2 linked regions of the Homo sapiens genome follow. The protein of the gene in region 1 binds, or shares a complex with, the protein of each later gene. Each region holds a gene or a part of one and is shown on either strand. Other genes may lie near its edges.

Region 1 (16,723 bases):
AGGCACTGCCTTTTCAAATGATTTATCTTTTGTTTTTAAAGACAATGTAAAAGAGAGGACTTATCATAACATCCCTCACCCTCACAGGATGTGCGTATCTTGTGTACCCGTTTTATTGCGATAAAATAAATAAATAACATACATCCTATGCAATGTACCCATTTAAAGTGTATAATTCAATGACTTTTAGCATATTTACAGAGTTGCGTCACCATCACCACAATCAATTTTGGGACGTTTTCATCATGTCCAAAAGAAAGCCCATGCCCATTAGCAGTCACTCCCCATCCCTCAGTCCATCCTCCCAGCCCAAAGCACCACTCATCTACTTTCTGTGTCTATAGATTTGCCTATTCCAGATATTTCCCAAAAATGGAATTAATACAATATGTTGTCTTTTGTGACTGGATTCTTTCACTTATATTGTTTTCAGGGTTCATCTATGTGGTAGCATGCATCAGTAGTTCATTCCTTCTTATTACTGAATTAAAATATTCTGTTTTATGAATATAACACATTTTGCTTATCTATTCATCAGTTGCTAGACATTTGGGTTATTTTAACTTTTTGGCTATTGTGGATAATGTTGCTATGGATATTTGGGGTTTTCATTGTTGTTGTTGTTGTTGTTTTTGAGACGGAGTCTCACTCTGTCGCTCAGGCTGGAGTGCAGTGGCATGATCTCGGATCACTGCAACCTCTGCCTCCCGAGTTCAAGCGATTCTCCTGCCTCAGCCTCCTGAGTAGCTTGGATTACAGGCACGCACCACCACAACTGGTTAATTTTTGTATTTTTAGTAGAGATAGGGTTCTGCTATGTTGTCCAGGCTGGTCTCGAACTTACGGGTTCAAGTGATCCGCCCACCTTGACCTCCCAAAGTGCTGGGATTACATGCGTGAGCCACCACGCCCAGCCTGCTATGGACATTTGTGTGCAAGTTTTAATGGGACATATATCTTCAGTTCTCTTAGATGTATACCTAGGAGTGGAATTGCTGAGTCATATGGTAACTCTATGTTTAACATTTTGAAGAACTGCCAGACTGTTTACCAAACCAGCCACACCATTTATGTGGGTTCTGCAGTAATGTATGAGGGTACCAATTTCTCTACATCCTCGACAATACTTTGCTGGGAGATGGGGTGATAGGGGTGTGATGGCTAAAGAGGCAGAGGTTTCTTTCTGAGGTGATGAAAACATTCTCAAACATTGTGATGATGGTCATACAACTCTGTGAATATACCAAAAATCATTGATTTATATAAATTAAATGGGTAGCTTCTATGGCTTGTGAATTATATCTCAGTAAAGATTATTTAAAACAATCAAACAAAAGCAGCAAATGCCAGAGGGGTGAGGAACGGGGAGAGAGAAGTGCAGGCCAATCTGAGGTTTCATAAGTGCATCTGCTCATCCGGTCATCCACTCATTCATTTGTTCATTCATGAAGTATGCATTGAGTACCTGCAGGTACCAGACATTGTTCTAGGTGCCAGGGATACAACAGTGAATAGAACAAAGTCCTTGCTCTGAAAAATTAAACATAGTAAGGGAATGGAAGAAATATGGAAGGTGGTCAGGAAAAGCCCATCCCAGGGGGTATAGTAGTATTGAAGCTAAGACCTGAATGAAGAGCAGCAGCAAACCATGTAGAAGATCTGGAGCAAAAGCTTTCTAAACAGAAAGAACAGCAAGTGCAAAGGCCCTCAAGGCACTAGCATGCTTTTTTTTCTCTTTTGGCAGGGTCTCACTCTGTTACCCAAGCTGGAGTGCAGTGGCACAGTCCTAGCTCACTGTAACCCTGAACTCCTGGGCTCCTCCTCCCACCTCACCTTCCCGAGTAGCTAGGACCACAGGTGCATACTACCATGCCTGGCTAATTTTTTGTAGAGATGGGGTTTCGCCATGTTGGCCAGACAGGTCTCTAACTCCCGGCTTCAAGTGATCCTCCCACCTCAGCCTCCCAAAGTGCTGGGATTATAGGCATGAACCATCACACCTGGCCTAATATTATTTTAATTTTTTGAGCCATAGTCTCGCTCTGTCTCTTAGGCTGGAGTGCAGTGGCGTGATCTCGGTTCACTGCAACCTCTGCCTCCCGGGTTCAAGTGATTCATCTGCCTCAGGCTCCCGAGTGGCTGAGATTACAGGCAAGCGCCACCACGTCTGGCTAATTTTTGTATTTTTAGTAGAGATGGGATTTTGCCATGTGACCTCAAGTGATCCATCCACCTCGGCCTCCCTAAGTGTTGGGATTACAGGCATGAGCCACCATGCCCAGCCTGATAGTCTAAATACATCACATAAGAATATATGTTGCATTTTGGCTGGTGGCAGTCACTCACACCTGTAATACTAGCACTTTGGGAGGCCGAGGTGGGTGGATCACTTGAGGTCACAGGGTGAAACCCCGTCTCTAGTAAAAATACAAAAAATTAGCTGGGTATGTTGGCATGCACCTGCAATCCCAGCTACTCAGGGGGCTGAGGCATGAGAATTGCTTGAACCTGGGAGGCAGTGGTTGCAGTGAGCCGAGATCATGCTACTGCACTCCAGCCTGGGTGACAGAGCGAGACTCTGTCTCAAAAAAACAAAAAGAACATATATTCCATTTTAAATTTTCTAAGTTTTTTGGATGGTTGTTTTCCTGTGAGCTGGAAATACTGTGGTGAGTGCTTAGTCTGTCAACAAATATCATATTCTTTTAGCATAGCTATACTGTTATTGCATTAAAAAACACAATTAAAAACAGAATAATTCACATTCCACTGGATTATTGTTCAGGCCTGCATATCAGCCCAGCTACTGCTTCTGCCCAGTTCCGCTGTCTCATCCCTCACACAGGTGTGGCTCCTAAGGGCACCCCCTATCTATCATGATGTATTCTGAACTTGTCTCGATCTTGCATCCAAGAGAAAGCAGGAGTGTGGGAGTGGTTGAGAAAACAGGTGGTAAGATGGGGGTTTGGAGCTGCATTACTTTTTACCAGACTGGCACTGAGGACCCAAACCCTGCTGGTAGCTGGAACAAGCCTTTGGCATAAGGTGATATCCAATTCTTAAGACTTGCACTAGTGGCAAATTGGGATGGGATGCTTGTGGAAGGGAATATGGGGGAAATAGTAAAGACAATGACATTGGGTGGCAATTGCTAAGCTCCATGCCCTTGATAAAAAATTACAAAGGAGTAGGAATGATTAACAGGCAATTGAGAACCATGTATAAAAGCTAGAGGACCTCCTTGACAGCACACAATGAGGCAAACTTCAAGGTTCTAACCTTCAAGGATCATTATTCCTCTTTATCTCACTAGTATTGTCCCTCCAGGAACCAGACGGAACCTGGAAGATGACAGTAGACTATCACAAACCCACAGAAGTAGTAGCCCTATTGCCGCCACCACACCAGTTTTGGTATCTTTGCTAGAGCAGATTAACACAGCCCCAGGTACATTTTATGTGGACATTGATTTGGTGAATTGGTTCTCTTCTAGCCCTAGGAGAAAAGTGGATCAGAAACAGTATGCATTCACATGGAACAAACAACAGTCTACAATCACAGTTTTGCCCCAGGGCTATGTTAACTTTCAGCATCTATCAATCACAATACAGCCTGAAGAGGTCTGGACCATCTGGACATACTGTAGAACATCGCATTGATCTTTTACATCAATGACATTACATTGATTCAGCTGGGTGGAAAAAAGTGGATAGCACATTAGAGGCCTTGGAGAATGACAACACAGGCCCCTGCAGTACTGGAGCAAGGCCATGCCATCTGCAGCGGAGACTTACGTGCCTTTTGGGAAAAAATTCTGGTGTGCTACTGGCCTGATCATAGACACCAAGCGACCACATTCTAGAGGGTAGGAGATAAATCCTGCAAAGATTCAGGGGTCTCCCACATAAGATGTTTAGGGGTCCAGAGTTAGGGCATTCCAGGATATCTCATCCAAAGAAAAAGATAAATTATTGCATCTTGCACCTCCCACCATGTAGAAAGAAGTGTTAAGGCCTGATAGGCCTCTTTGGGTTCTGGACACAGTATATTCCACATCTGGAAATACTGCTCCAACCCATGCCATCAGTGCAGGTGACATAAAAGGCTCCCAGCATTAACTGGAGCTCAGAGCATAAAAAGGTTATACAGCAGGTCCAGGCAGTCTGCTACTTGGTCATTTGTGCTTCCATAGACGGTGTTAGTGTTAGTGGTAGGAAAAGATGCTGTGTGGAGTTGATGACGAGCTCTACTGGGAGAATGACAACACAGGCCCCTGCAGTATTGGAGCAAGGCCATGCCATCTGCAGTGGAGACTTATGTGCCTTTTGAGAAAAACTCCTGGTGTGCTACTGACCTGATCATAGACACCAAGTGACCATATGCCAGGAATTACCCATCATGAGCTGGGTTCTGCCAAACCCACCGAGTCACAATACCAGGCAGTCAGTAACAATGCATCCTAGGATGGAACTGGTACATCTGGGACTTAAAATAAGTAAGACCAGAAGGTACAAGCAAGTTCCACGAGCTGGCAGCCTAGACCCCCATGAACACCACTACTACCTCAACACACCTCCCCTGGTGCACCCTTCTGGTTGTAGGTAGGATCCTTTATGACCAGCTGACAAGAGGAGGAAAAATCCTATACTTGGTCAATGGAGGGTCTGCTCAGTATGTGAGTTCAAGCTGAAAATAGATGGCAGTTGCACTATAGCCCCACTTAGGGACAGCCTTGAAAGACAATGGTGAAGAAAAATCTCCATGGGCAGAGCTTCAGGAGGTGCACTTGGCCATCCACTCTTCCTGCACAGAGAGGCATCTCAAGCACAGAATATCTATGTACTCAGTGGCAGTGAGGAATGGCCTACCTGGCTAGCCAGGGCCCCGGAAGAAGAAAGGTTGGAATGGAAGATGGGGGACAGGGAGGTCTGGGGTAGGGGCATGAGGATAGGTGTCTGGAGTGGGCACCAAGTATGAAGATGTTTGTATTACATGTTAACACCCACCAGAAACCATCCACCATTGAAAAGCCACCATGTAACTAAGAGGACAAAAATATCTGGGCCAGTTGACCTTAGTCGGCCTCTGTCATCAGCCACCTAGTGCTGGTACTAAGGGCACATGCATGAAATGACTACAGTGGCAGAGACAGAGGCAGCAGGAGCCTAATAGCATGGGCTCCCACTTACGAAGCCTGATTGAGCTACTGCCACTGCTGAATGAGCCCCCAATATGGCACCATTCCTCCAGAAGACCAGCTGGCTCCACGGTGCAAGTTGACAACATGGAACCCCTTCTATCTTGGAAAAGGCAAGATTCATCCTAACCACATGGAACCCCTTTCATCTGGAAAAAGTCGAGATTCACCATGTCAAGAAAACGCATATATTCTGGGTACTGTTTACCTTTCCTGTTCTCAGGACCTTAGTCAGCACCACTATTTGAGGGCTTATCGAGTATCTGATTCACTGTCACAGGATCCCACATAACATCCATCAGGCCAGGGACCCAATTTACTGCAATGGAGGTGCAGAAATGAGTCCGTGATCAGAGGATTCCCTAAGCGATTCACAGGCTGGATCATCCAGACACTGCCAGCCTGACAGGATATCGGAATGGCTGCTGAAGGCCCACTGGAAGCAGCAGCTTGGAGACAGCACTTGATAAGGGTGGGGTTCATCTTCTAGGATACTCCTTGAACCAAAGACCTTTATATAGTGCTGGGACCTGCAGGGTTAGAGGTCTTTGTCCCCAAAGGGGAATCTTTCACCAGAGGACACAGCAAGGGTCCTCTGAGCTATAAGCTACAGCTGCCACCTGGGCACCTTGTATGCAGGGACCAGAAGACCAGAAGGGGAGTCATCTTGGCTAAGAGTAACCTACTTGGGTGCCTCTGAGTCCTCCATTGCCCAATTATGACAATAAACAGGCTTGGGAAGGGCATGCTGGTCAGGGGTTGAGATCTTCAGTCCACGAGGCAGGATGGAGGCATTAGCCACTCAAACCAGGGGAGGTGCTAGCTGAGGGAGGGGGAGATTTAGAATGGATACTGAGGAAGGAGACGATAAGTACCATTGTGACCCCCAGAAAGTTGCAGCAGCTAGGGCTGTAGTTGGTCCCAGGGACCTTTCTCTTCTAAGTTTCCAGCAGGAATCCTGGAGGAGCTGCTCCTGAAATTGGCCTGTGGAGAAGAAAGAGGTGTTGCTCCAAATATGCTGGAGTCATCTTCAAGGGTTGACTGTGGTAGTCCTTGAATCCTCCTTCCTCCACCCTCTCTTTTCTGCCCTTTCTTCTTTGGACAAATATTTACTTTCTTTCTTTTTTTTTTTTTTTTTTTTGTTTGAGATGGAGTCTTGCTCTGTCATCCGGGCTGGAGTACAGTGGTGTAATCTTGGCTCACTGCAACCTCTGCCTCCCAGGTTCAAGTGATTCTCATGCCTTAGCTGCAGGGGTAGGTGGTATTATAAGAACATGCTACCACACCCGGCTAATTTTTGTATTTTTAGTAGTGAAGGTGGGGGGAGGGTCTCGCCATGTTGACCAGGCTGGTCTTGAACTCCTGACCTCAAGTGATCCGCCCGCCTCGGCCTCCCAAATTGCTAGGATTACAGGTGTGAGCCATTGCACCTAGCCCATTGGACACATATTTCTACAAATGTTTGCTGAACATCTAAAAATAAGAAGCAAATAAATAGGCTGGACACGGTGGCTCACGCCTGTAATCCCAGCACTTTGGGAGGCCACGGCAGGCAGATCACCTGAGGTCAGGGCTTTGAGACCAGCCTGACCAACATGGTGAAACCCCATCTCTACTAAAAATACAAAAATTAGCTGGGCATGGTGGTGGGCACCTGTAATTCCAGCTACTTGGGAGCCTAAGGCAAGAGAATCCATTGAAACTGAGGGGAGGTGGAGGTTGCAGTGAGCCGAGATCGCGCCACTGCACTCCAGCCTGGGTGACAGAGTGAGACTCCGTCTCCAAAATAAATAAAATAAAAATAAGTAAATAAAAGGAAACCATAGGTCCTGCCACCAAAGCGGCTCCTAATGGAGTGGGAAAGTCATATGCCTCTAGGGAAAATCTTCTAATAGAAATGTCTTAGCACACACATTTCTGTGGTACATAACCTGGTTGTGATTGTAGAACCCTGATACATCCCAAAGCCTCAGGGGGCGTTTCATGTGTGATCAGAACAGGTCTGGTCAGGTGTCACAGACTTTGCCCATTTTTAGCCTCTCCCTCTGCTCTGAACTGCTCCACCAGGAACCCCCAGGGGCAACGAGACTCTGGGGTGAACAGCTGCTGCTGATTTGCCCAAGCCTGGGAGCTGTTGAATCTGCCCAGTGGGGGCAGGGCGGGGCAGCCGCTCTCCCCTTGTATTTCGCTTTGTCATGGGTGGGGAGGTAGGGAAGGAGGTTAGTTTGTATCCCAGTTTTTTATATGGTTTTTAGTAAAATATCCTTTTCTGTTTTTACTAAAAGTACCCTTCCCTCTTCCTTCCACTCCCATAGGTCTCAGATTCTAGTCCAGTGTGGGACTGGTTAGGAGGTAAATGCAGTGAGACATGGAATACTAAATTGCCCCTCCCACAGGCAGATTGACTGGGGGACAGGGGTCCACAGCTCTGTCGGCAACATGAGTTCAGACGTGTTCGAAGTGGGTGCAACTTAAGTTTAAGATGGGTCCTCACCTCCTTGTTCATAGAGCTACAAGAGTGAAGAAGAGGAAAGGATTAATTCATCCTGCAGAATTGAGAAAGAGCTTACAAAAGAAATGTCACTTGGGCCAGGCGTGGTGGCTCATGTCTGTAATCCCAGTACTTTGAGAGGCCAAGGTGGGAAGATCACTTGAGGCCAGGAGTTCGAGACCAGCCCTGGGTAACCCTGCCCCTACAAAAAAAAATAGCTGGGCATGGTGGCACATGACTGTAGTCCCAGCTACTTGGGAGGCTGAGGCAGGAAGATTGCTTGATCCCAGGAGTTCGAGACTGCAGTGAGCTGTGATGGCACCACCGCACTCCAGCCTGGGAAACAGAGTGAGACCTTGTCTTAAACAGAACAAAAGAATTGTCACTTGATCTGGGTTTTAAAGAGGGCTGTCAGATGGGGAAGGGAATTTCAGACAGAGGGAAGAGCAAAAGCGCAAGGCCCTTAGAGTGCTTGTTAGTTCAGACAAAGCTCTTGCTTCAGGGAATTTACACTCCAATGCAGTGAGATCAGCAATAAACAAACATGTGCATCCTGTTAGGCAGTGATAAATGCCAAGAAAAAAAATCAAACAAGGTGATAGGGCGTCTGGGAGTGGCATGGGTGCTATTTTAGGTGGAGAGGCTAAGGCCGGCCTTTCTGCAAATGTGTTTTTTGAGCAGAGACCTGAATGAAGTGAGGAAGTACGCCACGCGGGTAACAAGAGAAGGCCATTTCAGGCAGAGGGAAGAGCCAGAGTGCAAAACTCTGAGAGGAGCAGGCTTGTGTGCTCAAGAAGGCCTATGTATCTGGGGAACAGTGAGAGAAGAGGGCAGTGGGAGGAGAGGGAGCCACCATAGGGCTTTGAGCAGAGGTCATGATCAGTCCATCAGTTTGGAGAAGAGGCTTCTGGAAACATGGGCAGAAACAGAAAGACCAGTTAGGAGGCTTTGCAATGATCCAGGCGAGAGAGGACAGGGTCCTGAGTGAAGGTGATACCAGCAGAGGAGCAAAGGGGTGTTGGAGGATATTGCTGGATTCTGGTTATCTTTTGAAGGTAGAGTCAACGGGATTTGTTGATAGACTAGATAACATTGGAAAGGTAGGTTGTTGCTGAATTGGGAATTGAGACAATTTCTGAACATACCACTTCCCTCTTAAAAATTTCGTGTTAAAGTCCAGACTCATTAGCAGTCATTTATTCATTTGCTTATTCATTCAACACATACTGATTGAATGCCTAGTATGGACCAGGCATTGTGCTAGGTGTTGCAGGTAGACACAAAATTTAAAAGTAGGGCATACTGGCCGGGCGCGGTGGCTCACGCCTGTAATCCCAGCACTTTGGGAGTCCGAGGCGGGCGGATCACGAGGTCAGGAGATCGAGACCATCCTGCCTAACACTGTGAAACCCCGTCTCTACTAAAAATACAAAAAAATTAGCTGGGCGTGGTGGCGGGCGCCTGTAGTCCCAGCTACTCGGGAGGCTGAGGCAGAAGAATGGAGTGAACCCGGGAGGCGGAGCTTTCAGTGAGCTGAGCTCGCGCCACTGCACTCCAGCCAGGGTGACAGAGGGAGACTCTCTCTCTCTCAAAAAAAAAAAAAAAAAAAAGGGCATACTTTCTGCCCTTACAGATCTTCAGTCAGATGGGTGACACAGACAAGTACTTAGGTTATTACAACCCATGTGACAATTGCTACCATGGGGAAATACAGGGGGAAATAGGGGCATATAGGAAAGGTATCTAATTGGAATTGGCAAGGCTCCACTCGTACCTTACCCCGAGGTCAGCTCAGTTTTGAAGTTCACTCTAGCAGTGCTGACCATTGCGGGGCTGTGAGACAGTACAGTCTGAGCTCGGTCATCAGCGGGTGGCCAGCTTTGTCTCTGCCGCTCCGCGGCCCGGGCTTACTCGAAGGTCCCCGGGGAATAGCCTCACCTTTGCCCCACTTCCCAGTCTAGCCCCTAACTTCCCGCCGTCTATTGGCTGCGCAGCCGCCCAATGGGCAGGCGGAAACCGCGGGCTCGTGCTCCCGGCCTAGGGCGTCTTATCTCGTTCGCGCGTCTCGCGAGCATTAGGTGACTGGCTGAGGCGGCGCCAGTTGGCCGGGCACGGGGCTGCTGTAAGGCCGAGGTTGCGGCGGAAGCGGAGACCATGTTCCGAGCGGCGGCTCCGGGGCAGCTCCGGCGGGCGGTGAGTCCGGACTGGGAAGGCGAACCCAGGGACGGCCCCCCGTCAACCCGCCGTCCCTATGGGGTCTTGCAAAGATCACTGGCCCCCTCAGATTCGACCAGCCCTCGCGCCCGCAGGCCGGTCCCCGCCTGGGACTTGGGTCCAAAGTTCTGGGGCCTACCCTGGACTCCCTGCGGAACGCCAGTTCGGGGCAGAAGTCAGAGGTTTGGGGTCAGGGTGACCCCGAATGATGTGAATTTGCGCGTCTGCTGCCCCTTCTTCTGGCCCACTCTCTGCCCTGCCGTTTCCCACCTTTGTCGGTCACTCTGGGCACTTTCGGGCCGCCAGGTCCTCCACACTTGCTCCACACCCGAGGGAGCAAAATGTCACCGGGGAATGCCCTGTTGGGGAAAGTTTCAAACCTAGATTCCTCCCGGAGGCCGGCATTTCTGGAAGAATTAAACACTTTGGGCGCATCGTGGCTACTCCGACCCACTCACTGTCAAGGGCGGGGGTGGGGTGGGGTGGGAGGCTGCGTGGCCAGTTATGGAAGCTGGTTCTGCTTTCTGGTTTATGGAGCAGGGCTGAATTTAGGTGATTGTATTTGTAAAACCTGCGATCCGATTTGACAGCTTTAGCCAGTTTTGAAAGGCAGACGTCTTTTTATATGCTTCAGGCTGACCTGCTTTTAACCAGCAGATTGTAGATTAGGTTAACTGGTGACAGTGGTACATTTTCAGTGTTTCATTAGTGACAAACCACATTTCTCTCTTCTGTTGTGAGAAGGACTGATAGGAAACATATTTTCCTTCTCATGCTGTGGGAAAGGAGTATTTGGAGACTGACCAGTCACAAGTCAAGTAACAATAATTTATATTGTGGATTGTGTAGTTTTCCTAGTTTACATTTAGGTGAAATGAGAAACAAGATTGGTAAACTTGGGTCAGAAACTTACCTGATGGTTTGTACCTTTTCTCCTTTTTTTTTTTTTTTTTTTTTTTCTGGGCATGGATATTTTCCCATCCACTCCTGGGATTTTTCTCTCTGAGGCATAGCTGGAGCTCTTTCTAGATGTCTGTAGACATTAGACTTTTGTTTGTTTGTTTGTTTGTTTGTTTAAGAGACAAGGTCTGGCTCTGTTTCCCATGCTGGAGTGGAGTGCAGTGGCACGATATGGGCTCACTGCAACCGTCGCCTCCCAGGTTCAAGCGATTCTCCCACCTCAGCTTCCCGAGAAGCTGGGATCACAGGTGCGCATCATCACGCCTGGCTAATTTTTTTTTTTTTTTTTTTTTTTTTTTTGTAGAGACGGGGTTTCCCCATGTTACCCAGGCTGGTCTCGAACTCTTGTCCTCAAGTGATCCACCTGCCTCGGCCTCCCAAAGTCCTGGAATTACAGGCCTGAGCTACCGCACCTGGCCTTAGACATCTTTTTTCTTGTGCGTATTCCTTGTTTAATAAAAAGTTCTGACCCTCCCCTCCCCTAAAGAGTTCAAACCCATGTCTTTCAGGTTAGTGTCCTGTCTTCCCCTCAGGACATGTTTTCTCCCGGTTGGGGATCTAGACATAAACAAGTGAAAATCATGAATTTGGGGAAATTCCAGGAACCTGAGCCAGAAGAATGCTGCTCTATGCAGCAGTTGGAAAACAGTTTTGTGGACAGATTACAAGTCTGGCCTAAGTGAAATTATAATTGTGGTGGGGGATGGAATTTAGGACTCAGTAATTTTGTAGAGCTAACAGAAAAAAATGGAATGATTAAGTAATTTTTACTATCCACATCGTTGGCTAATGTGTATAGACATTACTTCCAGATATTCATTGTGGTTTGCCAAAGACTTTGACCTTGACTTATTTTTAAAATTTGAAGTCAAGCTAAGTAGAATAGCTGTTTTTTTTGTTTGTTTGTTTGTTTGTTTTGAGACGGAGTCTCGCTCTGTCGCCCAGGCTGGAGTGCAGTGGCGCGATCTCAGCTCACTGCAAGCTCCGCCTCCCGGGTTCACGCCATTCTCCTGCCTCAGCCTCCTGAGTAGCTGGGACTACAGGTACCCGCCACCACGCCCCGCTAATTTTTTTGTATTTTTAGTAGAGACGGGGGTTTCACTGTGTTAGCCGGTATGGTCTCGATCTCCTGACCTCATGATCCGCCCGCCTTGGCCTCCCAAAGTGCTGGGATTACAGGCGTGAGCCACCGCGCCCAGCCTAGAATAGCTGTTTTAAAGTCATTAAGAATGTTGGAGAGATTTGGATTTCTAGCATAAAAGAAATGGTGGCAACACTTCTAAAGTGGACCCATATATTAATAGGGACATATACCTGTATTTAACTTTTTAAATTTTGAAATAGTTGCACTTATAGAAAAGTTGCAAGAATAGTACAAAGAAATCTCAAAACCCTTCCCCTGGTTTTCCCAGCATGTTAGCAGTTTGACACATTTGCTTTATCTTTCCACATATATACATAATACTATCTTTCTGAACCATTTGAAAGTATGTTGCAAATGTGCCCTTTACTCCTAAATAATTGAGTGATATTTTAAAAGAACAAAGAGGTTCACTTTCTAACTACACTGTAATTGGCAATATCTGGAAGTTTCACCATAAAATACTGTTTTCTAATCTATGGATGTTCAATTTTGCCAGTTGTCCCATTAGTACAGTTTATAGCAATTTTCCTTATTCTGGTCTAAGATACTCTAGATGTCCTGCAAGTGGTTTTCATGTCTCTTTACTCTGTTAGAAAGGTTCCTCAGCCTTCCTTTGGGTTTGATGACATTGGTGTATTTGAAGAGTACAGGCCTTCTATTTTCCAGACTGTCACTCAATTTGGGTTTGTCTGGTGTTTCCTCATGATTAGATTCAGGTCATGTATTCTTGGTGGGAATATCACAAAAGTGGTATTGTGTTCCCCGTGCATCATATTAGCAGGTACTTAATGTTGGTTTATCCCATTAGTGGTAATGCTGACTTTAGTTACTTAGCCAAAGTGTTGTTTGCCAGGTTTCTCCACTGTCAAGTTAATACTCCTCCTTTTGTAATTTTTAACTAATTTGTGAGGCGATTCATTGAGACTATGTGACTGTCCTATTTCTCATCAGACTTTTACCCAGTCTTAGCATCTGTTGATGATTTTTGCCTGAGAAATGATTACTATGATGCAAAATGGTGATTTTCTATTTCCATGATACCTTCGTACATTTTTTAGTTATTCTACTATAAGGAAGAACATTATCTTCTTGCATATTTATGGATTTATGGATACATGGATCCTTATTTAGGATAATACATTTCTACCTTATGCTGAAGTTGTCTCATGTTTGTAAAGTGGGGCCCATTCAATCTGACTCCTGTTTGTTTACATATATATGTTTGTGATATCACAAAGTCAAAATAGCTTATCTCAAGTCCCCACTCTTGAAATTAAAAAAAAAATGTTCTGTAGCTAACCATTAATGCATTTAGGAAGAGGATACATTTCCAAAACCATATTTAAAAAAATAAAGTTAGGAATTACAGTTAAAAGATTACCATAAACTGTTAACGATGTGCATATAGTTAACACTTAACACTTAAAAATGGTTAAGATGGGGCCAACCATGGTGGCTGACACCTGTAATCCCAGCACTTTGGGAGGCTGAGGCAGATGGATCACCTGAGCTCAGGAGTTCGAGACCAGCCTGCGCAACATGGCGAAACCCCATCTCTACCAAAAAAAAAATTAGCCAGGCGCCATGGTTCACACCTGTAGTCCCAGCTACTTGGGAGGCTGAGGCACGAGACTTGCTTGAACCTGGGCATTTGAGGCTGCATTGAGCCCAGGTAGCACCACTGCCCTCCGGCCTGGGCAACAGAGTGAGACGCTGTTTCAAAAAAAAAAAAAAAGGTTAAGATGGTAAATTTTATGTATTCTTTTAAACCACTTTGTTAAACTATTAGGATATAAGTTCAATGACTTGCATTTGGTATCTAAGTTCCATTTTTAGTTCTGACTGATTTGTGCCATTGAGTAAAGTCTTTCATCCTTATGTGTGTGGCAATGGTCTTTAAAGTCATCTGTTAACAAAGATAGTTTTTATATCTATAATAAAGAGCTAGAGAACACACCAAGAGGCAAATAGGTAGGCATTTGCAGTTAGTTAATATTCTTGCAGGGATATTAATCCTAATTATTGTTATTTATTAATTTGCTCTTGAAATTGATTTATTGAAGAATAAGAAGATGCAGAAAAATATTTATGTGGTGAGTGAAACAACAATTTCAAGGTCATTTGAGTACTCTTTTTACTGTGTTTATTGTCAGGTGGGAAGGAATATCTATCAGGACTGAGAAGCTATGAAACTGGTGTGAAGGAACATGACACTTTTCTGTCTAGTATTGATGAATAAGATTGAACTCTGTAATTTGCATGCAAATTTTAATTTCTATTGAAAGAAGAAAGAGAGCCAATTTTGGTGTGATTCTAAAAGAAAATTTATTGCATAAGGTGAATTCAGTAAAATTATGATGCCTGCCAATGTGTCTACTAAGAGTCTTGTCCTTTCTTAAAGTGAAGTAAATTGACTGTGTTTTTAGTATTACAGTCAATGTCATATAACATTTCTGGTCATGATTAAAAGCTGCTATATTTTATTACTAAAAGGATTAAAGGAAGTATTTAAAGTACAGAAATATACATTTTAAAAATTACAAAATGTATGTTAAAATAGGGATAGGTGACTTTATATATTATCCTTTTGGGTATGACTCAGAAAGATTTTATAGCTTATTCTTGCTGTTTTTCTTTTTTTAATTAAGAAGCAAAAAAACCGGCTGGGTGCAGTGGCTCATGTCTGTAATCCCAGCACTTTGGGAGGCTGAGGTGGGTGGATCACGAGGTCAGGAGTTTGAGATTAGCCTGACCAACATGGTGAAACCCGTCTCTACTAAAAATACAAAAATTAGCTGGGTGTGGTGGTGCGTGCCTGTAATCCCAGCTACTTAGGAGGCTGAGGCAGGAGAATTGCTTGAACCCAGGAGGCGGAGGTTGGAGTGAGCTGAGATCGCGCCACTGCACTGCAGTCTGGGCGACTGAGCGAGACTCTGTCTCAAAAAAAAAAAAAAAAAGAAGCAAAAAAACCCTCCCCTGCCCTCTATACCCTCATTACACCTAGTTTCCAAAGATGGTTGGGGTGGAGGTATAGGTTACAATCATTCTTACTACTTTAGGTTATGAGTGGGTTTGTAAGGGTAGAGAGTTAGATTCCAGCTTTTTTTCTTCTTCTACCATCTGTGGTACTTTACTATGTGAATATACAGTTCAAGTCACAGCAAGAACTCTAAAAAACTGACAAGCAAAAACAATGTCAAAAATGAGGCTGATGCTGGGCACAGTGTCATGTGCCTGTAGTCACAGCTACTCATGTGGCTGAGGCAGGAGGATCACTTGAGTCCAGGAGACCAGCCTGAGCAACATAGCAAGCAAGACCCAGTCTCAAACAAATACCCACCCCCACAAGAAAAAAAAAAAAACAACTATTGAGGTTGAAAAAGAGAAGGACCAAAATGTGTTCATTGGACTTAGCCATAATGAAGTTTTTGGTGACTTTGGAAAGATTGGATTCAGTGTTGTGAAGGTGAAAGCCAGTTTGCATGAGTAACTGAAAAAATGGAAGGTGAGGTAATAAGAGTTGGTGTCTGTGGAAATTATTTTCAAGAAATTTAGCTTTGAAAGGGTGCAGAGAGGGTGATAACCTCTTTAAATCCTGCCCACAAGAAGTATACTATCTTATAAAGGCCAGTCAACTTTATATGGGTATGTGGCTGGCATGAGAAAGAAAACTTCATATTTTGCTATTTGCAACCAAGTCTAAACAGAGTATAGAGAACTTCTCTAAAAGCATGATGGTGTGTCTGTTTTAGTGATGTAACAGTTTATGTACTGTTTAGTTACCCTTATACATGTTTAGTTGATTACATTATCAATGAGGAAACAGTTGCTTTTTAGTTTTTGATAATTTTAAGAAAAGTTTTCATTTAGTTACTATTCATTGAGTGCCAACTGTGTGCCAGAGAGGTAGATACCAAGTTCACAGTGGAGAACAAGACAGACCTAGTCCCTGCCCTTGTGATGCAAACAGATTAAGGAAGAAACACATTATTTTAAGTGTGGTCATTGTTACAGAACATAGAGGGTGTTTGGGAGAGGTTTAATCTTGTTAGAGGACTGGAAAACACTGAAAGGATATCTGTGAAATTATGTTTGCACACTGAGGTGCCTTAAACTATTGTTACTGAGTGATAAAGTAATAGAGCGGAGGATTTTCTTTCTTTCTTTCTTTCTTTTTTTTTTTTGAGACAGAGTCTCACTGTTGCCCAGGCTGGAGTGCAGTGGCGCCATCTCGACTCACTGCAGCCTCTGCTGCCTGGGTTCACGCCATTCATCTGCCTCAGCCTCCCAAGTAGCTGGGACTACAGGTGCCCGCCACCACGCCCGGCTAATTTTTGTATTTTTAGTAGAGACGGGGTTTCACCATGTTAGCCAGGATGGTCTCGCTCTCCTGACCTTGTGATCTGCCCGCCTCGGCCTCCCAAAGTGCTGGGATTACAGGTGTGAGCCACCGCTCCTGGCCGAGGATTTTCTTTAGATAAAAACATCACTTCATTTTTTAGTTTTGTCTAAAATCATTTATCATTGCTGTATTTTTTCCCCCAATTTTTTTTTTTTTTTTTTGAAATAGAGTCTTACTCTCACCCAGGCTGGAGTGCAGTGGTGTGATCTTGACTCGCTGCAGCCTCAACCTTCTAGGCTTAAATGATCCTTCCATCTCAGCCTTCCAAGTAGCTGGGGCTACGGGAATGCGCCACCACATCTGACTAATTTTTTA
Region 2 (12,437 bases), on another chromosome or scaffold:
AGACCCAGGAGTCCGGGCCCCCATCCCCTCCTTCCTCAGACCCAGGAGTCCGGGCCCCCATCCCCTCCTTCCTCAGACCCAGGAGTCCGGGCCCCCATCCCCTCCTTCCTCAGACCCAGGAGTCCGGGCCCCCATCCCCTCCTTCTTCAGACCCAGGAGTCCAGGCCCCCATCCCCTCCTTCCTCAGACCCAGGAATCCAGGCTATCAGCCCATCCTCCCTCAGACCCAGGGGTCCAGACTTCCAGCCTCCTCCTCCCTCAGACCCAGGAGTCCAGGTCCCAGCCCCTCCTTCCTCAGACCCAGGAGTCCAGGGCCCCATCCCCTCCTTCCTCAGACCCAGGAATCCAGGCCCCCATCCCCTTCTTCCTCAGACCCAGGAGTCCAGGGCCCCATCCCCTCCTTCCTCAGACCCAAGAGTCCAGGCCCCCAGCCCCTCCTTCCTCAGACCCAGGAGTCCAGGCCCCCATCCCCTTCTTCCTCAGACCCAGGAATCCAGGCTATCAGCCCATCCTCCCTCAGACCCAGGGGTCCAGACTTCCAGCCTCCTCCTCCCTCAGACCCAGGAGTCCAGGTCCCAGCCCCTCCTCCGTCAGACCCAGGAGTCCAGCCCCCTCCCCAAGACCTTCATCACCTGGCACTGTGCAGGCCCACAGCTGACGGCGATGACCTCCTTCACCAGCTTCTTCTCCTTGAGCCGCACAGCCTCCTCCACCGCGATCTCACAGAAGGGGTTCATGGAGTGCTTCACACCATCCGTGACCACACCGGTCCTGTCAGGCTTCACTCGGATCTGCCCAGCAGGAGGGGAAGGGGTGGGGTCAGGAGGAAACAGGCAAGAAGGTGGGGGCCTCAGCGCCAACCCTCTCCCAGGCTGGATGAGGACAACGACAGCCTGGAAAGGGGCAGGGCCTTGTCCGGGGTCACACAGCTCCAGGGACAGAACTGGGTTAGAGTTTGTAGGCAGGGGCAGGTCACCCTGTCTCCTTCTCTCATCCAGCCATTCCTGGGTACCAGGGACATCTGACTTGATCATCCCTACTGTTGTCACTGCTCCTCTCAGGCCTGAAAGAGTGTTTCTCAAATTTACAGTATTTATGGTAACCCACAGTGAGAGGTACATTTTACTGTATCTCCAAGTGTATATAAATACATAATACACTGATACATAAATACAAATGAGGAGAAGAAAAGGAAAAACCAGTTAGGTAGACAGTTAAGGGTGGTCCTCAGAGGAGCAGCCTGCCTGAAAAATCACAGCTACAGGCAACAATAGAGCAGCCTGGGGAAAACTCAAGCTGCCCAGCACAGAAGCCTTTTGTTCTTTGCGTGACTGACAGGCTCCCAGGAAAAGTTCCCTCCCCTTTTCAGGCACGTACATGGTGGTCTCTGTGGGAACTTGCACGGGGAGGGGCGGAGCTTACCTAAAACAAACCCACGGTTACAGAAACAAGAGAAGCGGAGCTTTGTGCTTGCCTAAAGACGTACCCACAACTACATAGATAACGGAGAGTTATGCAGATAGCTTTACAGATAAGATACTCAAACAGCTACAGAGATGAAAGGAGTTTCTTATAAAAGCTTTTGGTGTCTTTTGCTGTGCAGAAGCTCTTTAGTTTAACCATCAGAGTGAACAGGCAACCTACAGAATGGGAGAAAATTTTTGCAGCCTACTCATCTGACAAATGGCTAATATCCAGAATCTACAATGAACTCAAACAAATGTACAAGAAAAAAACAAACAACCCCATCAAAAAGTGGGCGAAGGATATGAATAGACACTTCTCAAAAGAAGACATTTATGCAGCCAAAAAACACATGAAAAATGCTCATCATCACTGGCCATCAGAGAAATGCAAATCAAAATCACAATGAGATACCGTCTCACACCAGTTAGAACGGCGATCATTAAAAAGTCAGGAAAGAACAGGTGCTGGAGAGGATGTGGAGAAAAAGGAACACTTTTACACTGTTGGTGGGACTGTAAACTAGTTCAACCATTGTGGAAGTCGGTGTGGTGATTCCTCAGGGATCTAGAACTAGAAATACCATTTGACCCAGCCATCCTATTACTGGGTATATACCCAAAGGATTATAAATCATGCTGCTATAAAGACACATGCACACATATGTTTATTGCGGCACTATTCACAATAGTAAAGACTTGGAACCAACCCAAATGTCCAACAATGATAGACTGGATTAAGAAAATGTGGCACATATACACCATGGAATACTATGCAGCCATAAACAATGATGAGTTCATGTCCTTTGTAGGGACATGGATGAAGCTGGAAACCATCATTCTCAGCAAACTATCGCAAGGACAGAAAACCAAACAACGCATGTTCTCACTCATAGGTGGGAATTGAACAATGAGAACACATGGACACAGGAAGGGGAACATCACACACCGGGGACTGTCGTGGGGTGGGGGGAGGGGGGAGGGATAGCATTAGGAGATATACCTAATGCTAAAGGACGAGTTACTGGGTGCAGCACACCAACATGGCACATATAAACACATGTAACAAACCTGTACGTTGTGCACATGTATCCTAAAACTTAAAGTATAATAATAAAAAATAAATAAATAAATAATTTTTTAAAAAAAAAGCTTTTGGAATCAACTGTAAAAATGGCAACCCGCTTGGGCTTCCCTCTCCTCTGTGGAGAGCTTTCTTCTTTTGCTTATTAAACTTTCGCTCCAACCTCACCTTTTGGGTGGTCTATGCTCTTTAATTCTCTTGGTTGTGAAACGAGCTCGGATAACACCTTAGACAACGTGACCAGTGACCCTGACCTATTTCACAAATGCCACTGCAGTGTAAGGGTCAGTGACCAATACTGACCCTGCCTACACACACACCATACTCTGACATTTTCTACCCTTTTTCGGAAAAATGCCAGCCCTCTGCCTGGATGTCATGATCACACATGGTCACAACCTAATTTGGAAAACACCAGCATGAAAGACCTCTTTGCTAAACAGACAAGGGAGGTAAGGGAGGTGGGTGGCAAACCCCACCCATTTGCTTCTGCACATCATTTTTGTCTCTCCTGGGCCCCACTGTGTGCCTGGCTCTGAGCTGGATCCTGGGGACACCATCATGTGCCAGGGAGAGAGGCTTCCGGTGTAGACCAGGGTGTAGCGTGAACCACTAACCACTCTCCTATTAGTTTCTCTCGGCTGCCGTAACAAATCACCATATATTTGGTGGCTTAGAATCTTACAGCTCTGGAGGCCAGAAGTCCAAAGTCAGTGTCACCAGGGTGAGACCAAGGGGTCTGCAGGCCCCGGGAGGAACACGTTTCTTGCCTCCTCCAGCTTCTGCTGACACTCCCTGGCTTGTGGCTGCATCGCTTTATCTTCAATGCCAGCATCCTCAGCTCTGTCTTCACGTGGCCTTCTCCTCTCTCTGCGTGTCTAGTCTCCCTCTGTCTCTCTCTTATAAGGACTCTTGAGATGGCATTCAGGGCCCACCTAAATAATCCAGGATAATGCCCCCATCTCAAGATGCTTAATTTAATCACATCTGCAAAGACCCTGTTTCTAATTTCTTTTTTTTTTTTTTTTAGATGGGCTCTCGCTCTGTCGCCCAGGCTGGAGTACAGTGGTGAAATCTCGGCTCACTGCAACCTCTGCCTCCCGGGTTCAAGCAATTTGCCTGCCTCAGCCTCCCAAGTAGCTGGGATTACAGGCATGCATCACCACGCCTGGCTAATTTTTGTATTTTTAGTAGAGACAGGGTTTCACCATGTTGGCCAGGCTGGTCTTGAACTCCTGACCTCAGGTGATCTGCTCTCCTCGGCCTCCCAAAGTGCTGGGATTACAGGCATAAGCCAACATGGCCAGCCTGCAAAGACCCTGTTTCTAAGTGATTTCCCCTTCTCAGGTGCCAGGGATTGAAACCTGGCTGTTTTGGAGGGCTATTTTATTTCTTGGCCCACCACAATCCTTTTTTTCTTTCTTTCTTTTTTTTTTTTTTTTTGAGATGGAGTCTTGCTCTGTTGTCCAGGATGGAGAGCAGTGGCATGATCTCAGCTCATTGCAACCTCTGCCTCCCCAGTTCAAGCGATTCTCCTGCCTCAGCCTCCTGAGTAGCTGTGATTACAGGTGCCCACCACCACGCCCAGCTAATTTTTTGTATTTTTAATAGAGACAGGGTTTCACTATGTTGGCCAGGCTGGTCTCGAACTCCCGATCTCTGGTGATCCACCCACCTCGGCCTCTCAAAGGCAGGGGATTACAGGCGTGAGCCACCGCTCCTGGCCCAACCTGAGTTTTTATAAGGTCATTCTGGATTCTTGGTGGAGAAAATTGGAAAAGGATGAGAGGAAGTGGGGAGAGAGCTGGGTGGCTGTTTGTCACCAAAGTGAGAGGTGACAGTGGCTCAGACAGCTGTGACAGCAGAGACAGATGCAAGAGGTTTCTGGAGGTGCAACTGACAGGCCATGGTTCGTGATGGGAAGATGACACCAAAAAGGGGCTTCCAGTCAGTACATCAGCCAGAGCCGGGAAGACGGCGAGTTTGGTTTGGGGCACAAATTTTTAAAAAGCCTCCAGGGACATCCACAGAAGCCTTGCTAGGGAGCTGCCCCATTTGGCCTGGAGCCTGCCCTCTTCCTCTTCTCCCATGTGGCCGCCACCCAGGGCTTGGCCAGAGCAGATCTCGGGTGGCAGCTGAGCCTGGTGAGGACACTGGGATGCTCTTGCTATTTCCCTGCCCCTTTTTCTCTGGGGCTGTGGGTGTAACTGTTCCTCCCACAGGCAGGACAGAATCCGAGATGAGAAGGTGGGACCCATAAGGGGCTTCCCACTCTGGCTGTGCCTCATGGAGAGGGTAACATTAAAAGATGGAGGACTGAGACCGGGCGCAGTGGCTCCTGTCTGTAATCCCAGAAATTTGGGAGGCCAAGGTGGGAGGATCACTTGTGCCCAGGAGTTGGATACTAGCCTGGGCAACAGGTTCTACAAACAACAACAACAAAAACAAAAACAGCTGGGCGTGGTGGCTCATGCCTGTAATCCCAGCACTTTGGGAGGCCAAGGTGGGCGGATCACCTGAGGTCAAGAGTTCAAGACCAGCCTGGCCAACATGGCAAAACCCCATCTCTACTAAAAATAAAAATAAAATAAAAAATTAGCCGGGCATGGTAGTGCACGCCTGTAATTGCAGCTACTCAGAGGCTGGGGCAGGGAGAATTGCTTGAACCCAGGAGGTGGAGGTTGTAATGAGCCAAGATTGCGCCACGGCACTCCAGCCTGGGCGACAGAGCAAGACTCCGCCTCAAAACAAACAAACAAACAACAACAAAAAAAAAAAAAAAAAAACAGCCAGGTATGGTGGCACACACCTGTAGTCCCAGCTACTCAGGAGGCTGAGGCGGGAGGATCACCTGAGCCCAGGAGGTCAAGGGTGCAGTGAGCCGTGATCATGCCACTACATGTAACCTGGGTGACAGAGCAAGACCTCATCTCAAAAAAGAAAAAGAAAAAGAAAAAGGAGAAAGAGGAGAAGGAGCTGGAAGAGGAGAGGAAAGAGAAAGAACTGTTATTTTCATCTCTCTCGTTGCCCAGGCTGGAGTGCAGAGGTGCCACCTTGCCTTACTGCAACCTCCACCTCCCGGGCTCAGGTGATCCTCCCACTTCAGCCTCCCCAGTAGCTGGGACCACAGGCGGGCACCATCATGCCGGGCTAATTTTTTTTTTTTTACTTTTTGTAGAGAAAGGATTTCCCCGTGTTTCCCAGGCTGGTCTGGAACTCCTGGCCTAAAGTGATCCGCCTGCTTCAGCCTACCAAAGTGATGGGATTACAGGTGTGAGTCGCAGTGCCTGGCCTTTTTTCTTAAAAAAAAAAACACAACATAGGAGTTGCCCCTTTAAGACAGAAAAGAACCTCATCCACCCATCAGTAAGAGGCCCCAAGCTTCTTGCTGTGAGTCAGGGAGGCTTCTGAAGGGCCTCAAGCCACATCTTGCTCTTGCTCTGGCAGAACTCCCAGCCCTAAGCTCCTGATTCCCAGGCTCCTGACTCCTGAGGAGAAAGGGTAAGAACTTTCCAGACACACACACACACACGCACGCACACACACCTGAGGAAACAAACTAGCTCATCTTCTCAATTAAGCTTGAGTTGATTTTAAGCTTCAAAAACAGTTTAGTTATATTACATAAGTCAGGAAACAATGGTAGGGCTGAAAAATGATAGCTTGTTTGTTTTTTAAATAATGATGGCTCATGCCTGTAATCCCAGCACCTTAGGAGACTGAGGAAGGAGGATCACTGGAGCCCAGGATTTCAAGACCAGCCTGGGCAACATAGAGAGACTTCATCTCTACCAAAAAACAAAATTAGCAGGTCATGGTGGCGTGCACCTGTAGTCCCAGCTACTGAGGAGGCTGAGGTGGGAGGACGGCTTGAACCCAGGAGGGTCGAGGCTGCAGCGAGCTGTGACTGTACCACTCTAGCCTGGGTGACAGAGCTAGACCTTGTCTCAAAAAGAAAAAAAAAAAGTTTTATAATTGAGGTAAATCATTCAGCATTAAGTGCTGGCTTTCTCTTAAAGAGACGACATATCCACCAATATCAAAAACAGCCTCAAAGCTGGGCGTGGCGGCTCACACCTGTAATCCCAGCACTTTGTGGGGCTGAGGTGGGTGGATCACTTGTGGTCAGGAGTTCGAGACCAGCCTGGCCAACATGGTAAAACCCCATCTCTACTAAAAATACAAAAATTAGTCGAGCGTTTTAGCACATGCCTGTAATTCCAGCTAGTTGGGAGGCTGAGGGAGGAGAATCACTTGAACCCGGGAGGTGGAGGTTGCAGTGAGCAGGGATCACATCAATGCACTCCAGCCTGGGTGACAGACCAGATTCTATCTCAAAAAAAAAAAAAGAAAAGAAAAAAAAAATTTTTTTAAAAGCAGCACTGACCCATGCAGACAACGAGTCAAGGGTTTTATATGCATTAACTCGTTTGACCATCCTAGTAGCCTGTGAGGTTGGTTACTGCCATTACCTCTCATTTTACAGATGAGGCAACTGAGGCACAGAGAGGCCAAGTACCTTGGCCAGGGCCACTGAGCATGGAAGTGGCAGGACCACGGGTCTAACCCCAAATCTGTCTTGGGAACTGTGAGACTCTGAAAGAGGCTACGTGTGCCCACGGTGTTAGGAGAGCCAGTCTTCCTATTTGTTGTCCACTGCAGGCAAGAGGGATTTTCTTCTCTTCTCTTTTCTTTCTCTCTTTCTCTCTCTCTCTCTCTCTCTCTTTCTCTTTCTTTTTGATACAGAGTCTTGTTCTGTTGCCCAGGCTGGGGTGCAGTAGTATGATCTTGGCTCACTGCAAACTCCACCTTCTGGGTTCAAGCGATTCTCCTGCCTCAGCCTCCCCAGTAGCTGGGACTACAGGCGCCTGCCACCACGCCTGGCTAATTTTTTGTATTTTTAGTAGAGACAAGGTCTCACCGTGTTAGCCAGGATGGTCTCAATCTCCTAACCTTGTGATCCACCCGCCTCAGCCTCCCAAAGTGCTGAGATTACACGTGTGGGCCACCGCGCCCGGCCCACGCCTGGCTAATTTTTTTATTTTTAGTAGAGATGGGGTTTCGTCATGTTGGCCAGGCTGGTCTCGAACTCCTGACCTCAGGTGATCCGCCCACCTCGGCCTCCCAAAATGCTGGAATTACAGGTGTGAGCCACCACGCCCGGCCCAAGAGGGATTTTATAAAGTGATTTTCGACAGCTCTTCCTGAACCCCTGACACAGCTCAAGGACTTGTGTGGTTCTGTCCTCTAGGCTTTTCTGTCAAGCGAGTCCCTGGGCACGTGCTAGGGCACTCAGCAAGCAGGACAGCCAAGGCCAGGGAGCCACCCCAGTGACAGATCACTAACTCGGCGGGGGGCAGACAGAGAACTCGTCCCTGAGGTGACATGTGAGCCCCACGTGTGCCCTGTCAGACAAGGTGGCCTTGCTGAGAGCAGGAGGGGCAAGTGCGTGGAGCCCAAAGAGGAAAACCTGAAGAAACACCAGGCGCTCCCAGACGAGAGGGTGTGGCTGGTCGGGGTTGGGCCCCGAGATGGAAACACGTTTTCTGGGCCTGGAGTTTCTATCCTGTGGGGTCATCTCTAAGAAAATGAATCCCAGATAATGAATACAAAATTGCCCAGCCTCTCCTGGGTTTTTTTTTTTTTTTTTTTTTTTGTGAGACGGAGTCTCCCTCTGTCACCCAGGCTGGAGTGCAGTGGCACGATCTCGGTTCACTGCAACCTCCGCCTCCCTGGTTCAAGCGATTCTTCTGCCTCAGCCCCCCGAGTAGCTGGGACTACGGGCACGCGCCGCCATGCCCAGCTAATTTTTGTATTTTTAGTAGAGACAGAGTTTCACTCTGTTGGCTAGGATGGTCTTGAACTCCTGACCTCGTGATCCACCCACCTCAGCCTCCCAAAGTGTGTGTTTACAGGCGTGAGCCACCAGGCCCAGCCTTTCTCCTGGGGTCTTGAAAGAGGCCCTGAAGGTTAAGCTTCATCAGCTTCCTGTAAAATGTGCCCCTGAACAGGACAGGGTGTTACTGAGTTGCCAAATACCTATTAAAATGTTAGATACACGCACATACCCAGAAACATACACACAGCCGGACACACATACACACACACACACACACACACACACACACACACACACACACGAATACACTCTGAGCACAGCATTTGTTATGTTTTGAATAAATGACTAACTAAACATCCATTACTACTACTCCCAATAAAAACACTTATTGCAGCTGGTCACAGTGGCTCACACCTGTAATCCCAGCACGTTGGGAGGCTGAGGCGGGTGGATTACCTGAGGTCAGGAGGTCTAGACCAGCCTGGCTAACATAGCAAAACCTCGTTTCTACTAAAAATACAAAAATTAGCCAGGCGTGGTGGCTCACACGTGTAATCCCAGCTACTCAGGAGGCTGAGGCAGAGTTGCTTGAACCTGGGAAGTGGAGGTTCCAGTGAGCTGAGATCATGCCACTGCACTCCAGCCTGGGCAACAGAGATAGACTCCGTCTCAAAAAATAAAACAAAACAAACCACTGTGTGCCAGGCACTGTTCCAAGGGCTTATTTAATTTTCATTACAACTCAATAAAGTAGATAGTACCATCATCCCCATTGTACAGAGTAGAAAAATGAGGCTTAGAGTGGTGAAGCAATTTCCTCAAGGTCACACAGCAGGAAGTGGACGCAGGCGCTGGGCTTGGAGTCTGAGGTCTGCACTATTCTAGTAGTGAACCCACTGTCTCAGGAAGCAGTGACCACATCAAACTGTCTCCCCCACACCTGGAGCTCAAATTCCAGAAGGGGCGACAGACACCAGAGCAATCAATAAGTAAACAACACTGTGGATTACAAAGTGTCCACACCAGCTTCCCTCTGGGGACAAGCTGGGCTCTCAGAGGGTGCCCCTGCTCCCACCTCCTTCATGGAGAATGTGAGTCACTCCCTCCACTCAGTTAGGTTGGCTCCTTGAACTTTCATCTCTAGCAAACATACTTTCCTCTCCCTTTCTAGTTGCTAAGTATAGGGGAAAACACAGCAAAACACAGGGACCTGGGGCCTGTGATTTTAAGGAGGCAAGCAGGGAAGTCCTCCCAGAGAAGGTGATGTTTGAAAAGGAGGTGAAAGAGGTCAGGGAGTGAGCACGTGATTCTGGGAACAGAGGTGGATCAGACATGGCCCCTCTCTGCAGGGAGCTACCAGCCTGGGGATGATGGAGTAGGGCAGTGGGGAACATGGGGTAAACAGAGGATCCCAATCCAGTCTGGCGAGGGCTGATGGAAGCAAATCTAGGGACTGCAGAAGCCCCCAGGGATATACCAAGGCAACCTGAGGGTGTAGGGTCAGGGGCTTCCTGGAGGAGGCGATGCCAGGGAGAATCACTAAATTATTATTATTATTATTTTGAGACTGAGTCTAGCTCTGTCACCCAGGCTGGAGTACAGGGACACAATCCTGGCTCACTGCAACCTCTGCCTCCCAGGTTCAAGCGATTCTCCTGCCTCAGCCTCCCGAGTAGCTGGGACTACAGATACGTGCCACCATGCCTGGCTAATTTTTTTATTTTTAGGAGAGATGGGGTTTCACCATGTTGGCCTGGCTGGTCTCAAACTCCTGACCTCAACTGATCCACTCGCCTCAGCCTCACAAAGTGCAGGGATTAGAGGTGTGAGCCACCGCGCCTGGCCGAGAATCACTAGATTTTGATATAATCCATGAGTTGGAGTTGGGCAGGACAAAGGACAGAAAGCAGAGGTAGGAGGGTGGTGCTGGAAGAAGGCATGGAACGGGCAAGCCGCGGCCTGGTCTGTCAGGACAGGAGGAGCAGGTCACAGTGGCAGAAGCACAAAGGGTAAGGGAGGGTCCAAGGAGGGAAGTGGACGGCTGAAGCAGACCATGAAGAGGAGGCTGGACCACAAAGCATCCCAAATGCCAGGCAGAGGGGCTGCGACTCTGTCCTGAGGGTGCTGGGGAGCCACAGGCAGGCTGGGAGCAGGGGAGAGCAGGGTGAGCTCTGGGTGCAGAAAGGCCCCTAAGGCTGGGTAGAGGTGGGCTGAGAGGGAGAGACTGGGAGTGAGGGAGGACCCGGGTGAGGGTCCAGGTGAGACAATGACACCAAGAGACAATAGGGCAAGAAGGGTGGGGGGTGGAGAACTGACAGCTTTGGGAGAAGGGAAAGAGGGTGGGACAGTACCCAGGTCTAATCTGGTGTTTAGGAAGCTGGCAGGGTCTGAATCATTTATTTGTTCTGAAAAGGACATCAACAGACACATCCAGTGAGACAGGATGTAATGCAGGGAGCCCTGGGGCACTGCGGGAGGGGAAGGCAGCACCCTCTGGAAAGGACAGTAGCTGATTCAACGCGGCCTTCACGCTTCCCCTCTGTTCTCTCCCTGAGCACACCAGAGACATCCATGTGCCAGGCTCTGTGCTGAGTGATGCTGGGACCAGAGCTGAGTCAAACGTGGGCCTGCACCATGGGGGAGACGGATCCAATCCCAGACATGCCAGGCGTGGAAGGCCAGGGCTGGGATGGAGAGAAGAGGCCCAGGGAGCTGTAGGACTCCAAAGATGTGACAGTAACGAACAGTCAGAGCAGGGAGGAAACCAAGTGTTGGGTCCCAGGACCCCAAGAGGAATGTGTCTCAAAAGGGCTACAGGTGACATCCCTGTCATGTGCTGCCAGAGGCATCATTAGGACAGGGGGCATTGAGGGAGATGGGAGAGCAGAGTCTAGAGCCAGACTTGCCCGGGGTTTCGATCGTAACTCTGCCACTTACTGGCTGGGAGATCTGACAGGCCTCAGTTTCCTCATCTATCCAATGGAATTAATAATACAAAGGGTCGGCCAGGCACGGTGGCTCACACCTGTAATCCCAGCACTTTGGGGGGCCGAGGCAGGCGGGTGGATCACCTGAGGTCTGGAGTTTGAGACCAGCCTGACCAACATGGTGAAACCCCATCTCTACTAAAAATACAAAAAATTAGCCAGGTGTGGTGGCACATGCCTGTAATCCCAGCTACCTGGGAGGCTGAGGTAGGAGAATTGCTTGAACTCGGGAGGCTGAGGTTGCAGTGAGCCAAGACTGCGCCATTGCACTCCAGCCTGGGCAAAAAGAGCAAAACTCCGTCTCAAAAAATAAAAATAAATAATAAATAATACAAAGGGTACTGAAAGGACTGAATGGGTTAATCTCTGCAAAGGACTTGGAACGATGCCTGCCACGTAAGTACCCGCTAAATGCTGGCTGCTATCATCACTGACACTTTCATGCTCAAGTCTGGCTCCTGTACCCTCTTCCCCAGCCCACTCCCTAAGCAGGCAGGGGCAGTATCAGTGTCAACTTTGTGACCCTGGTTTTGCCCACCCTGAGGCCTCCAGGGTGCCAGGCCCTGCGCTAGGTAATGCTGGGGACACGGAGGTAAGTCCCCAGGCTGATGGGAAGGACAGACATGGACAGACAGTCACCATCTTCAGTCCAGTTCAGGCCAAGCATTGAGAGAAACGGGCCTGAGAGACCGTGTCTGATTCACCTCTGTCCACACCAGCTTCCCTCTGGGGACAACAAGCCAGGCGCTGAGAGCACCCTCCCCCACCTCTTTCATGGAGAATGTGAGCTACCCCCAGCTCAGTCAGGTTGGCTCCTTGAACTTTCATCTCTAGCAAACACACTTCTCTCTCCCTAGCTAGAGCCTCCTGGCTCACCCTGTGGCTATGGAGGGTGGAAAGCAGCTTCTGGGGCCCCACAGGACCCTGTCTGACTCCCTCTATAGCACATTTCGGGTAATATAAGAGTACAATGGTAAGTAATGCAGCCTAGTGGGTGAAAGCAGTCAGAGGAACCTGGATAGAACTCTCGGCTCTGCCCTTCTCTAGCTGGGTGACCTCTCTGT

The links.
Region 2: the proteins of ETFA (region 1) and ETFB are in contact, whole or in part, in a crystal structure (PDB 2A1U), measured with the Homo sapiens proteins. Residues at the interface, in NP_000117.1 of Homo sapiens: Glu27, Leu88, Pro89, Glu90, Ser113, Ala114, Phe115, Lys117, Asn118, Pro121, Arg122, Ala124, Ala125, Lys126, Glu128, Val129, Ala130, Pro131, Ile132, Ser133, Arg146, Thr147, Ile148, Tyr149, Ala150, Gly151, Asn152, Ala153, Leu154, Cys155; in NP_001976.1 of Homo sapiens: Ile14, Tyr16, Val18, Ile20, Val22, Val29, Thr31, Phe41, Leu102, Arg106, Lys124, Gln125, Ile127, Asp128, Asp129, Asp130, Cys131, Asn132, Gln133, Gln136, Met137, Ala139, Gly140, Phe141, Asp143, Trp144, Pro145, Gln146, Thr148, Phe149.

Annotation. Positions count from the first base shown.
Region 1 is NC_000015.10:76,304,508-76,321,230, reverse strand, and holds the start of ETFA (electron transfer flavoprotein subunit alpha, mitochondrial), read left to right. Parts: upstream 1-9,761; 5' UTR 9,762-9,842; coding exon 9,843-9,881; intron 9,882-16,723. UniProt on the Homo sapiens protein: Heterodimeric electron transfer flavoprotein that accepts electrons from several mitochondrial dehydrogenases, including acyl-CoA dehydrogenases, glutaryl-CoA and sarcosine dehydrogenase.
Region 2 is NC_000019.10:51,353,518-51,365,954, forward strand, and holds part of ETFB (electron transfer flavoprotein subunit beta), read right to left. Parts: intron 1,326-12,437; exon of another isoform or gene 1,122-1,325; coding exon of another isoform or gene 792-1,121; coding exon 633-791; intron 1-632. UniProt on the Homo sapiens protein: Heterodimeric electron transfer flavoprotein that accepts electrons from several mitochondrial dehydrogenases, including acyl-CoA dehydrogenases, glutaryl-CoA and sarcosine dehydrogenase.